Linked DNA regions of Homo sapiens: all the other regions are linked to region 1. Evidence: fine-mapped expression QTL. A gene starts in region 1. Each other region holds a variant in brackets. All regions are shown on one strand. Distances are from middle to middle.

What was found. PIP is the estimated chance that this variant, and not a neighbour inherited with it, causes the effect.
Region 2: its variant is the best candidate, but not a certain one, in a credible set for the expression of KCNQ3 in blood mononuclear cells (TOPMed, PIP 0.59).
Region 3: its variant is the best candidate, but not a certain one, in a credible set for the expression of KCNQ3 in sun-exposed skin (GTEx, PIP 0.52).

The regions. Positions count from the first base shown.
Region 1 is chr8:132,478,603-132,482,842 of GRCh38, reverse strand. It overlaps KCNQ3 (potassium voltage-gated channel subfamily Q member 3), which reads left to right and starts at 1,748. Exons shown (of 15, transcript NM_004519.4): 1 at 1,748-2,696. The coding sequence starts at 2,311.
Region 2 is chr8:132,601,250-132,605,489 of GRCh38, reverse strand. The region is part of intron 10 of DNAAF11 (dynein axonemal assembly factor 11); the gene reads left to right. Among named protein-coding and RNA genes, the nearest start is that of HPYR1, 42 kb to the right of the region's middle. The variant T/C (reference allele first, on the strand shown) is at 1,798.
Region 3 is chr8:132,418,018-132,422,257 of GRCh38, reverse strand. All of the region lies in intron 1 of KCNQ3 (potassium voltage-gated channel subfamily Q member 3), which reads left to right. Among named protein-coding and RNA genes, the nearest start is that of KCNQ3, 61 kb to the left of the region's middle. The variant C/T (reference allele first, on the strand shown) is at 1,796.

The sequences.
Region 1 (4,240 bases):
TCACTGCTGAGCATTTATCTATTCACGGATGTACAGGGGTCCTACTGGGCACTGCCACGTTTCCATATGCTATTTCCTATAATTCCTCACAAAACCCATCAACCAGTGAACAGCCTTTTCCCCTGGGGTTCTTGTCATGAACTCTTCCCGTTTAATATTAAGTTCCCATGCTAGAGTCTGTTTCTGGACAAAGAATTCTGTTGCACTGAGAGTTTATTTTTGTACCGATCCCACACTGTTTTAATGATTTCAGTCTTACAGTTTAACTTCCTCTGGAAACTCCTCCCTTCTTGATTTGGAGACCTCTTTTGAGGTTCTCCCCTTTGATAGTCATTCTATAGGGTGGTGGTTCTCTGACCCTTCCCCTGCCCCAGCCCATACATTCCTACTCCCTTCCCTTCCTTCTTCCCTTCCCTGTCTCCTATGCTCTCCTTGGCCAACTTCTCCAGGCAAATCCAGAGCTGGTGTTCTTGCAGGTCTGATTCCTCTTTTCTTATACACTAGGGATAGATCCTCGGCCTTGTTCACAGGGTCTCCCCTCACCCCATGTCTCTCACCCCAGCTGACAGACATGAGGTGAGAGAGTGGGAAGGAAAGGAGGCCACAGATGCCATGGGGCAGCAGGAATGGAGGCTTCCCCGATGGCGGTGGGCATGGAAGAAGTGCAGGATGCTCCTGTCCTTTGTCAGTGTCTTACAAGATCTAGCCTTTGCCTGTGGCCTACTCTCATTAAGCTCAAGCCACCCTTCCCCTCCGCACCCGCTGTTCTGCTGTTTGGAGGGCTCTCTGGACATTTACATAGTTGCTCCCAGCTTGTCATTAGGGTCTCACCTCGAAGCATCACCTCCACAATAAGGCCTTCCACGACCAGCCGGTTTAGAGTGACTCCCCCAGTCACTATAGCGCAGCACTCTAATTTGTTACCACATACTATTTACCAATATCGGAAATTCTACTGTTAAAATTTGTCTTTTCATTGTCTTCCACCGGCTAGGACGGAGGTCTTAGGAGTGCAGAGACCTCATATCTTCAGGACAGAGATCACTACCCTTTGCCAGGGAAGCTCACGAGGGGTTACAGATTGGTTGATTGAATTGAAATTTGGACCAGAGAGGGAATGACTGGCTTGGGTGCAAGTCGGGAGCAAAGCAGGAATCAAAGATTCTGACTGCATTTCTTCAGTCCTTTGCCCACCCAGACAGGTGAAGGTGCTATTCAAAGATTGGGGGAGGAGAGGGCCGCGGCATCCACCATGAACCACGAACTAGAGGGAAGAGGGAAGAGGGAAGAGGGAAGAGGGAGTCACGAGCTTCGCTACCACAGAGCAGGTGCGTTCGCGGTGCGCCCGGCCTTGACCAACCCGACAACTTGGCTTTTACCTCTGAAGCCGAGGAGCAGGGGTAGGGGGTGAGGGAAATTCACAAAGCTGCAACCACAGAGCCAATGTTTGGTGGGCGACAACCCCCCAGTCCCTCCTCCCTTCCTCTTCTTCCCCCAACTGCCCGCCGTCACGCCCCATCCAGGGGAAGCCCCAACGCCCACGGGAGCTCCAGGAGCCGGGCTCTGCAGCCGCCTGGCGCACTGCCTGGTTGCAACGGGGGCGGCGGTAGCCCAGGCGATCCTGGGTCCCCAGACAATCAGCGGTGGGGGTCGGCGGGAAGAGGCGGGGCGCCGCCGCCCGGGCCTCCCGCCGCGACGGGGCGGGACAATGGGGCCCCACCCCGGGGAAGGAGGGAGGGAGGGACGCGGCGTGCTCTCGGCCCGCGGCGCGCTCGCTGCTGCTGCTGCTGACAGGCTGAGGCTGGAACGGGCGGGGAGGGGCGCGGGTGGGAGCGCGGAGGAGGGAGGAGGCGGCGGCGGCGGCGCGTGTGGCTGGCGGGCGGGAGGGCGGCTGGCACCGGGCTTGTAAATAAACTGCGATGCTGTCTTGGGCTCGCCGGCCTGGGTGCCGCCGCCGCCGCCGCCGCCCCGGAGCGCCGGTTCCAGGCTCCCGCCGCCGCGCGCCCTAGCGCCTCCGCGCCAGCCTCGCGCGCCCTCCCAGCTTCTCCGCAGCCCCCGGCCCGCGACCCTCGGGGTCCTGCGGCTGACCCGCGCGGGATGTGACCCCCTGACCCCCTGCCTGGCCTCCCCTGCCCCCCAGGGGGCCCGCCTTTGCCTGCTTTTGGGGGGGGGTGGGGAGGGGCGCGCGGATCATGGCATTGGAGTTCCCGGGCTTGCAGCCGCCGCCGCCGCCTCGTTCACGCACCCCGAGCGCCCCTTCTTCCCAGAGCAGCAGCGGAGAAGGCGAAGCGGCCGGCGGGGGCGAGGCAGATGGGGCTCAAGGCGCGCAGGGCGGCGGGGGCGGCTGGCGGCGGCGGCGACGGGGGCGGCGGAGGCGGCGGGGCGGCTAACCCAGCCGGAGGGGACGCGGCGGCGGCCGGCGACGAGGAGCGGAAAGTGGGGCTGGCGCCCGGCGACGTGGAGCAAGTCACCTTGGCGCTCGGGGCCGGAGCCGACAAAGACGGGACCCTGCTGCTGGAGGGCGGCGGCCGCGACGAGGGGCAGCGGAGGACCCCGCAGGGCATCGGGCTCCTGGCCAAGACCCCGCTGAGCCGCCCAGTCAAGAGAAACAACGCCAAGTACCGGCGCATCCAAACTTTGATCTACGACGCCCTGGAGAGACCGCGGGGCTGGGCGCTGCTTTACCACGCGTTGGTGTGAGTACCCGGCCGCTCGGGGCGCCCTCGGCGGCGGCGCGCTTGGGGACTTGGGGTCGGGGCTGGAGCTGAGAAGTCTCTGGGGCTTTAAGACCCATGGATGCTTTCCCGCTGAAGGGGAGACCAGCCCGTCCTCAGCACGCGTTTCCCTGGGTGTGTGTGTGTGTGTGTGTGTGTGTGTGTGTGTGTGTGTGTGTTGCCGCTCTCCGGGTGTTCCACACTAGGGGCTTAAAAAACGAAGCGTGGTTCCCCTGCTGATTTGGGCGGATGTGTGCGCGCGCGGGTGCACATTTATGACATCTTCTAGGGGTGTTGGTTTGGAAGCTTAAAATAATTATGTGGGTTTTTCCAATTAATGTGAGGGTTGAAGAGGATAAAGCGGGTCCTCCCGTGAGCTCTGTGTTTCTGTTTCGGGTGGATCCCTTCTGTTGGGATCGCCACTGAGTTTAGTTGGGGATGGGAGGGGTGCGCACCACCCATAGTGGGGAGCGTGTGTGTGTGTGTGTGTGTGTGTGTGTCGCTTGCTTGTGCCACCCTTCTGATCGCTGGGTACTGGTACAGAGAAGAACCTGGTGCTGCTCTGACTGGGAGCTGGGACTGGCCAAAATGCATGTTCTAGGATTCCTTTTAGGGAAGTGAATGGGAACGTGTGTGTCTAAGCCTAGACTGAGGGGCTGGGGCTTCACAGAGCCAGGAGGTGAGGGGGCCGGGGACTCTTTTGGCTGAAACATCTCCTTGATTTGGGATCCGATATTCCCTCAGCCTCAGTCGCTGCTGCTTCTCCTGCTTTGGCTGGCCTAGGGCACCGGGAATGTGAGGGGCTTGGCCTGGAGGTTTGCACCCAGGCACTGTTCTCCTAGAAAGAATCTCCTTGCTAGTCCGATGTAAATGCATGGCCAGAAGGAAGAAGGAACTCCCTCTGCACCTGCCACTGGGGATGGAAAATCCACCCGTATTTGGGAGGGGGGAGAGGATGGTGGGGGTGCTCCTCATTCAAGATTGGAAATCTGTGCTGTCAGCACCCATCTCGGAGCTGGCAGGGCACGTCCAGCCATCAAGCTCTGCCTTCTGGCTCTGGTTTAGTCATCCTGATGGCTGCTTCTAGGAAGCTGTACTGTACCAGGGTTTTGGCAGGGAATTGCCTATGACCTTGGCAACCCCCCCTCCCCCCTCTCTCCCCCACGCGTTTAGCAGTGGATTTTCCTCTCTATTCTCCTCCAATTCACCCATGACTGATGTGGTCGGAAGGGCTCAGGAGCCTTGGAGTTAGTTACACTACCTGCCAGTTTTTCTTGGTTAGAGACGTTTTTCTAGGTTCGGCCACCAGGTGGGGGCGTCCACACAGGACCTCAGACTTAGCAACAGGTTTCTTCAAGGAGGTTACCAAGCCCGGAGAGGGTGCCTTCCCGGAAACTAAGGAACCAGCAGGAAGGGTGGGGTGGGAGTGGGGCATTTTCCCAGAAACGTGGATGTTGGTGTCTGTATGAGTGTGCGTGTGTATGTGTGTGTGTGTGTGTCTATTTGCAGGTGTTGGTCGGGGTCTG
Region 2 (4,240 bases), 120 kb before region 1:
CCTTAAATGTATCTTTAAAATACATTTTAATATTTAGAACATGCGTCTCCCCTAAACTACTCTCCCTCTCAACTATTTCCTGATTATTTTTCCATATGTATTTTTCTGGGTTAACTTTCAAATGAGTTTCTCAAATTCCGCCTCTGAAAAGACCATTGGAATTTTTATTGCCATGGATTTAGAGGCAGTGGGAAGAAATGATTAAGGGAATGGGCTCTGGAGCCAGAGAACCTGAATTAAATTCTGATATTTCACTCAGCAACTGTGTGACCTTGGCAAATTATTCATCTCTCTGTGCCTCAGATTCCTCATTCATAAAATGATATCAGTAGTAATTCAGACCTCAAAAGGTTATTTTGAGGATTATGCAAGTGAATATAAATAAAGTACCTAGGACAGCGCTTGGGACATAATACACACTACATTAATGTTTACTGTTAATATTATTCATTGCTAGTAATGCATATTATTAAATAATATCAATTGCTACTAGCTAGTATTTTATAATTATTAAGATTGCATTGAATTTATAGATTGCAATAGGAATGAATTGATGTATTTACATTATCAAAATTGGATATTCAATAATGTGTCTCTCCATTATTACTCTTATTTTATGTCCATTAGAAGGTTTTCTTTGTTGGTAGTTTTCTCTCTATAGTTGCTACACATGTCCTAAGTTTATTTATAGATATTATATGTATGATTTTAGTTTCTATTTTGGTTGGGGTTATTCCTCATCACATTTTCTAGGAGTTTATGTCTGGCCTTCATTCCAAGTTCTTTAAAATGTGTAATCAAACTAAGTTCTATGTACATAATCTTTTCATCATCATCCGGAGGATATCTAGCATATGATTTTACCACAGTCCAACTTAAAATTTAACTGGAATTTTGCATGCACTGAGAGGCTTGTTCACTTGCATCAAGTCATTAAATTAAACTGCCATCTCAATTCTTAAATGACAAGTTACAGGAACACTCCAAGAATATGCTTCATGATTTCCTTTGGGTGTTTCTTCAGAATAATTAACTGAGATTAAGGAAGTTGCCATGTGAACTGAACAGCAAAATATATTTACCACTTCAGTGGTGAATATCTTGCTTAATTCTGTTTATACTGAGCATAAGAAGTGAAGATCACATATTAAGGTCAATAATACAGACCATACTTCTAAAAAACACAATCTCAAACCAACCTCCTCCTTATTAGTTGCACACATTCCACTTTTTCTCTGCTCAAATATACTGGTGATATACCCAACACAAATGCACTTTTATTCTCTGATTGTCAAGTGGGTCTATAGTGTTGCCTGGGCATCTTGCTAGGTTTTCTTGTTTCATCCATACTTCTGCTCTTTTATTTCTCATTCTCAGCTCATTTATAAAACTTCCAACTGAAGCTCATTCCTGAAATTTCTAACTGAAAAAAGTGGAAGCCTCAAAAGATAATTTCCACAAACTTTAACCATAATGGCTACCAACCTATCTGCATTTATATCCCCTTGTGCAACCTGGCCTTCCTTCCTTCCTAATTCTATGAATGAACTGTCTGTGGTGTATGCAATCCCTCTAGATGTGTATTGGATCCTATTTCCACTTGCTTTTAAAAGACTTCCCACTCCGCCCCCGCCTTTGGCAGTTCTCTGCTCTCTATACTTTTTCTTTGAATGTCACCTCTCTGAATCTTACATTAGAAAACATTCTGAAAGGTCTCCCCTCTTAAAAAACAAAGACAGAACAAAATAAAAACATCCCCCTCTATTTACCGCCCTGGTCCACTTCATTGCAAAACTT[T/C]TAAAAAAGACGCCTCTATTTGCTGTTTCAAATCTTTTCTCATTATCTCTCAAATCAACTCCAATTAGGCATTATGTCCTCCCCACACCCCCACCCCCCACTAAAACATCTCTCTTTGATGTCTCCAATAACCTCCAGATTACTAAACCTGGTGATCATCCCTTGTCCTCCTCTTATTTAACCTTTTAGTAGGCTTTTTATCCCTTATACAGTTCCTCCATATTTAAATCCTTGCTCACTTGGCTTTCAATACACAGCTTTCACTCTGCCACCAGATACTTCTGTCTGCTGGAGTCCTTTGCCACCAGGTGCTTCATTGCTGGTTGTTTCTTATACCTAGGCTTCTGCAAGTTGGTGTGTGCAATAATTCAATTCTGAGACCTCTGTTCTTCTCTATTTGTACTCCTTCCTACATACTACCATCTTCTCATAATACCTCTAGAGCTCTGTCATCTGCTAAAGGCCAACTAAGTCACAAGGAACAACAATCACACTGAGAACTTAAGAAGATGGACTACATATTTTAAAAACATCTTAATAGTACCAGTACCTACCAAGATAGTGAATAGCCACTGTCCTCTGGACAAAAAGAATCCTTCAGTGACCACACAGGTGGGAAGAAAACAACTAATGTCCAGAGCCTGCCAAAAAGGGGACTCTAATAAATCGCTCTCACTTTGGGGTGTGATTCTGAAGGATTGTAACCTTTTAGTAAGGTGAATAAGATGTAAACCAGTCATCAGAAGGCCTCACAGCCTGTCTTCACACTATCTAACTTGGACTTGAGCTTGAGTGAAGGTTGTCTTGGATAAGTAACACCCACACATGCCTGGCAAACCCAGTGAAAATCCTTTCTAGAAGAGGCAGGCTCAAATTATATATATTACAAACATACACGCATATGTATGTATGTGTGCTGTGTGTATATATATATATATATATATATATTTCAAATTAAGTATCCAGTATGCAAAGATAAACTAGATACACACAGGGACATGAGTAGGATTCAGTAGAAACCCAGTCCAGTTTTGGAATTTGATTATGGCAGGTTGTTGCTCTTCTTCCTTGAGGGCAACCTTGAGGGTCCCACAGTTGCTGTGGGCATTAAATTGTTAGAAACAGACTGTAAAACACTGTTTTAATTTGGTGTCTTTCAGAAGCAGAAATTTACATAGGGATTGCAGTAGAGTAGTTTATTTGGGAAGTATGGGAATGCTGGAAGGGAAGGCGGCCAATAGAGAGTTCTCTGTTAAACCAGCTTCCCTGGTGGGAAAACTCTAGAAGACAGTGCTAAACACATACCTCAGCACAACCCTACATAAGGGGTGATGGAACTGGGACATTTGTGCACCAGCTCCTGAGGATCCTTGGTTGATGGCTGCTCCCTGTTGTGGGGTGGTAGTGACATTGATGTTGATGCTGATTATGTTAGGAGGCAATAGTCAAGCATGAAATGTTTTATAAGGAAACAGAAAATACAAAAGTGGTTTAATACTTGAAAATGAATGAAATAAAAATGTTTTAAAATTGAAATATGATAACTTTAAAATTTAATGAGTAGATTTAACAGCAGATTAGACATAGCTGAAGAGAGCACTGCTACACTGGAAAGTAAGAAGATGAGATCCAGAATGAAGCATAGAGAAAAAAAAATATTAACGAAGACAGTAAGAACACATAGAATAGAGTGAGAAGGTCTAACATGTTTAGTTAGTGTCATATGGAGAATAAAGGAAGAATTTAGCAGAGATAGTTTATTATTATTATTATTATACTTTAAGTTCTAGGGCACATGTGCACAACGTAAAGGTTTGTTACATATGTATATATGCACCATGTTGGTGTGCTGCACCCATTAACTCATCATCTACATTAGGTATATCTCCTAATGCTATCCCTCCACCCTCCCCGCACCCCATGACAGGCCCCGGTATGTGATGTTCCCCTTCCTGTGTCCAAGTGTTCTCATTGTTCAATTCCCACCTATGAGTGAGAACATGCGGTGTTTGGTTTTTTGTCCTTGTGATAGTTTGCTGAGAATAATGGTTTCCAGCTTCATCCATGTCCCTACAAAGGACATGAACTCATCTTTTTTATGGCTGCATAGTATTCCATGGTGTATATGTGTCACATTTTCTTAATCCAGTCTATCATTAATGGATATTTGGGTTGGTTCCAAGTCTTTGCTATTGTGAATAGTGCTGCAATAAACATACGTGTGCATGTGTCTTTGTAGCAGCATGATTTATAATCCTTTGGGTATATACCCAGTAGTAGGATGACTGGGTCAAATGGTATTTCTAGTTCTAGATCCTTGAAGAATCACCACACTGTCTTCCACAATGGTTGAACTAGTTTACAGTCCCACCAACAGTGTAAAAGTGTTCCTGTTTCTCCACATCCTCTCCAGCACCTGTTGTTTCCTGACTTTTTAATGATA
Region 3 (4,240 bases), 61 kb after region 1:
TGCAGATAAAGAGAAGGGAAGAGTCAGGGATGGCTCGTGGGTCTCTGATTGGAGCAACTGCATTAGATGGTGGTGTCATTTCCTGAGAAGGGCGATCCTGGAATGAGCCAGTTTGGAGGTGAAATCCAAGCCAGTTTGGAGGTGAAATCTGGTGTTGGCAGGCAGTCATTGTTGGTGTGAGCTGGTGGAGGCACTGACCAGGCATCTGGGTAGAAAGGCTGTAGCTCTGAGTGGAGGGTATAACCTTTCTCTCTTTCTAACACTGATGGTGCAGCCCCAGCACTAGAGGCCTCATGATCCCACCAGAAGAGGAAGGGAGACGGAAAGCCTGTAACATTGGAACTAGTATGAGGATTTGAACCTGGCCCATCCTGGCTCCCTTTGGAAAATGAAGTCTGTATTTGCCCATCTTCAGGATCCAGATGTCTCTCCCATTATCTGTTTTAAAAGATAAATTTCCTGTGTGATTCTGCAGCCAGATCCAGGTGGAGGGTTCATCTAGGCCAGTGTCTCGCATCCTGGTAGGATCTTTCATATGTTCCAACTTGTTCCTGCTTACGGAGGTTTGTTCCTCATTTTCCTTTGGAACACATTGTTTTTGCTGAAGACAGAACCACCAGTTGAGGTTAAAAAAGAAAAAAAAGACCACTTTCACCTGTCATCTGTTACCACCCACCATCTGCCCCAAGTGAATCCCCCATTTTGTTCCCCCGACCCACACACCCTAGGTCAGGCAGCATCATTTTGGTCATAACCTGTCTTTCCTCTGCTCCTCTGCGCTCTTCCTGTAGATTTGAAGAACTTTTAAAAATGTTTCCTGCCAGCACCTCGTGTCACCTGTTCCTTTTGTCAGCTGGTAGTTATGAGGGAGCCTTTCCCATTTCCCAGCGTTGGCTTCTTGAGACTTCTTATCGAACAATTTGTGATGAACTGTTGGAATTTCATTTTCCTAGACGTTTTCTTGGGCCCAGACTGCTACCATTTTCCTGAGAGCTTCTATGTGCCCCTCACATGCATGAATATATTTAGTCATCAAATATCTTAAAATATATTATTCATATGTAGAGATAATTGGAACACAAGACTGTGTATTACATCTGCACATACACTTATCTAACCAGAAAATTTAGAAAACACAGCAAAGCCCTCCTAATGTTTGCAGGTTGACTGTATGAGCCGTTTAAACATTCACCTCTGCCCCACATCCCCTGCTCAAACTCCTCCTGGTATATGCCAGTCATGCCTTCCTGTTTACCTTTCAAATCATGTTTACTTTGGGGATTAAAATTTAAATGTATTTCATGTCAACCCAAGCAACTTTTTTGTTTTTTGTTTTTTTTGCATCTCTACATCTCTACTATGTGCTGGTCTGGGAGCTGGAGTGACCGAGGTCGAGGAGAGAAACCCAGGGGCCCTCTGTGCAGTGCTTCCCAGCATCTAGAGCCCCAGTTAGAGACTCTCCTCACAGACTCCAGAAATGCAAAACACATGGAAAGCACAGAAACATGTTGCTTTTGCAACATCATTTATCAACACACCTCAAGAACACTGGGGTTTGGTACAAATTAGTTATTCACTGAAGCATAAAGCAGTTAAATAAACACTTATGCTTTCCCAGAGGATTCTTCCCTCCGTGAGTCTGTTCTGACCACAGTGACCTCCCTTATGTGCTGCCTGGGATCTGGTTCATCTCTATCTTTTGAAAAAAGAACACAGCCCACACACTTCCGGGTGTCAGCCGAGGAGACATCAAGTCCTGGTGCTGGATGTTTCTGGCTCAAGGGAAAAGGGCAAG[C/T]TGCAGATGTCGCCAGGCTGGTCTTCTGGCTGTGGCAGCCCAGAAGGTGGATGGACCCTCATCATCTGTGTCCATGACACTGCAGTGATGTTTTCTAAGGCACATCGGGACTTACCCACCCAAATATTCCTTCCCTTGGGTGGGCAACCTGTTATGGACTGAATGCATCCCTCCAAAATTCATATGTTGAAGTCCTAACTCCAAGTGTGATAGTATTAGGAGGTGGGGCTTTGGGGAGGTGATTAGGTCATGGGGGAGAATCTTCAAGAATGGGATTAGTGCTCTCTTGTACAAGAGACCCCAGAGCCCTCTCCCATCTCCCATGTTCTGCCCACCATATGAGACCACAAGGAGAAGGTGTCAGTCTGCACCCCAGAAGAGGGCCCTGACCAGAACCCAGCAATGCTGGCACCCTGATCTTGGACTTCCAGTATCCAGAACTGTGAGAAATAAATTTCTGTTGTTTATAAGCTACTCACTCTCTGGTACTTTGTTATAACAGCCCAAACTGACTGAGACAGTACCCATGTATTCCAACGTGGGAGTGCTGTTCGTTTTATCCTTTAAGAGATGACATGTTGACATGTTTGGAAGAATGCAGGTTTTCCGGTAAGACAGTACTGGGCTCAATTACAGGACTTATCAGTTGTTGTTACTGATGCTGAATATCTGTGTTGCCTTGGAAAGTCACTTCGGGATTTTTGAGCCTCAGTTTTCTCATCTCTAAAATGGGCTAATAATATTGACCATCAAAGATTTGTTTTGAGGTACAACACCTAGAATAGCACCTGTATCTACTGGCTACATAGAAAACAGTTCTCATTTTTCTGATCTACAGAGAGCACTCTCTGAGGGCACAGGCAGCTTCAGTGGTGGAGATGGGTGTGGCTGTCCATTGTCTTTTCTCTGGCCCCCATGATGGTTTTCTTGGAAAGCATTTTAAGGCTAAGAAAGGCTCTGTCTGGTCTCAGGAATCAGGACTCAGGCACTGGATGTTTTTTGTGTGAATTTTCCATCAGTGTATTAACAATGGTAAGACAGAGGGAGATAATGCTCTTAAAAGCAGTATTAAATGAAAAATGTTGCATTTATTATTGCATTTTACTAGGGTGGCTCTATCTTCAATGATGCCCGTGACCTGCAAATCCAGAAATCCAGACAAATGGTCTAATAGTTTTCAAAGTTTTTACAGCTGAAAATTGAGAGGATGAAAGGTGCTGTGGTTAAGCCAAGGTGAGAGAACACTGTTGTTCAGCAGGGAGCCTGGCAGTGGAAGGAATTTCTGCCTTCTTCAAAGAGTGCTGCCATGCCTTAGTTCCCGAAGTATTAGGCTTTTGGACTGGAAGGCATTGTATTGACCTTTTTAGATGGATCTCTTCTCAGTGATGTTGCCTCGCTTTTCTCATGCTTCTCCCATGTGCTGGAGATCACTTACATCTTTGTGTATCTTATGGTAGGTGCTGTAATGCCCATTTTACAGATGAGAAAACTGAGGCTTAGAAATTGACTTGCTTTACGTCACATGGCTTTTAAAGATTGAATTAGGACTTGCACAGAAGTCTGACCACAATGCTGCCTGCTGCTTTTCCTCACCTTTCTCTGTGCCCACACCCCAACACCACTTACAACTATCTACTTTTTATTTTTATGTTTTTAAATTTATTTAATTTATTTTTTGAGACATAGTCTCATTCTGTTGCCCAAACTGGAGTCCGGTGGCATGGTCTCGGCTCACTGCACCCTCTGCTTCTCCAGCTCAAGTGATTCTCTGGCCTCAGCCTCCCAAGTAGCTGGGACTACAGGCACGCACCACCACACCTGGCTAATTTTTATATTTTTAGTAGAGACGATGTTTCATCATGTTGTCCAGGCAGGTCTTGAACTCCTGGTCTCAAGTGATCCACCTGCCTTGGCCTCCCAAAATGCTGGGATTACAGGTGTGAACCACTGTGCCCGGCCATCTACTTTTTAAATTTAGCAATTGAGGAGGGTGAAACCCGAGTGGGGAATAAATGACTTACCCCTAGTCACAGAGACCATTAGAGGCAGAGTCGGGTTGAGACCCAGAGCTCCTCCCTCCCTCGCCTGCTTTTTTCTGCTCTCCTGCCAGCCTTCCGTGAGCACGCCTCATTAAACCCACACAGAGCCACGGATGTTTCCTCAGCTCTGTCACAGATCCCTTCTTGCTGGCTGCCAGTTAATGCCGCTCCTCTTCAGAAAGCCTATGGTCTGAGTTTATATTTATCTTGTCCTCAGGCTTCAAAGTAATTGTTTCCTCCTTGTTTTCGTGTGGGTCACTCAGTGTGGGTAATATGTTCTTACTCAGAAAAAAACCAGCACTGCCTTCTTATTCCCAATCACAGTGCCAGCATGCTAAGTGTCGTGTCCCTGATCCAATCCCGGTGATCTCAGGAAATCTCCTCTGGAAGATGAGGGGGGTGTGGC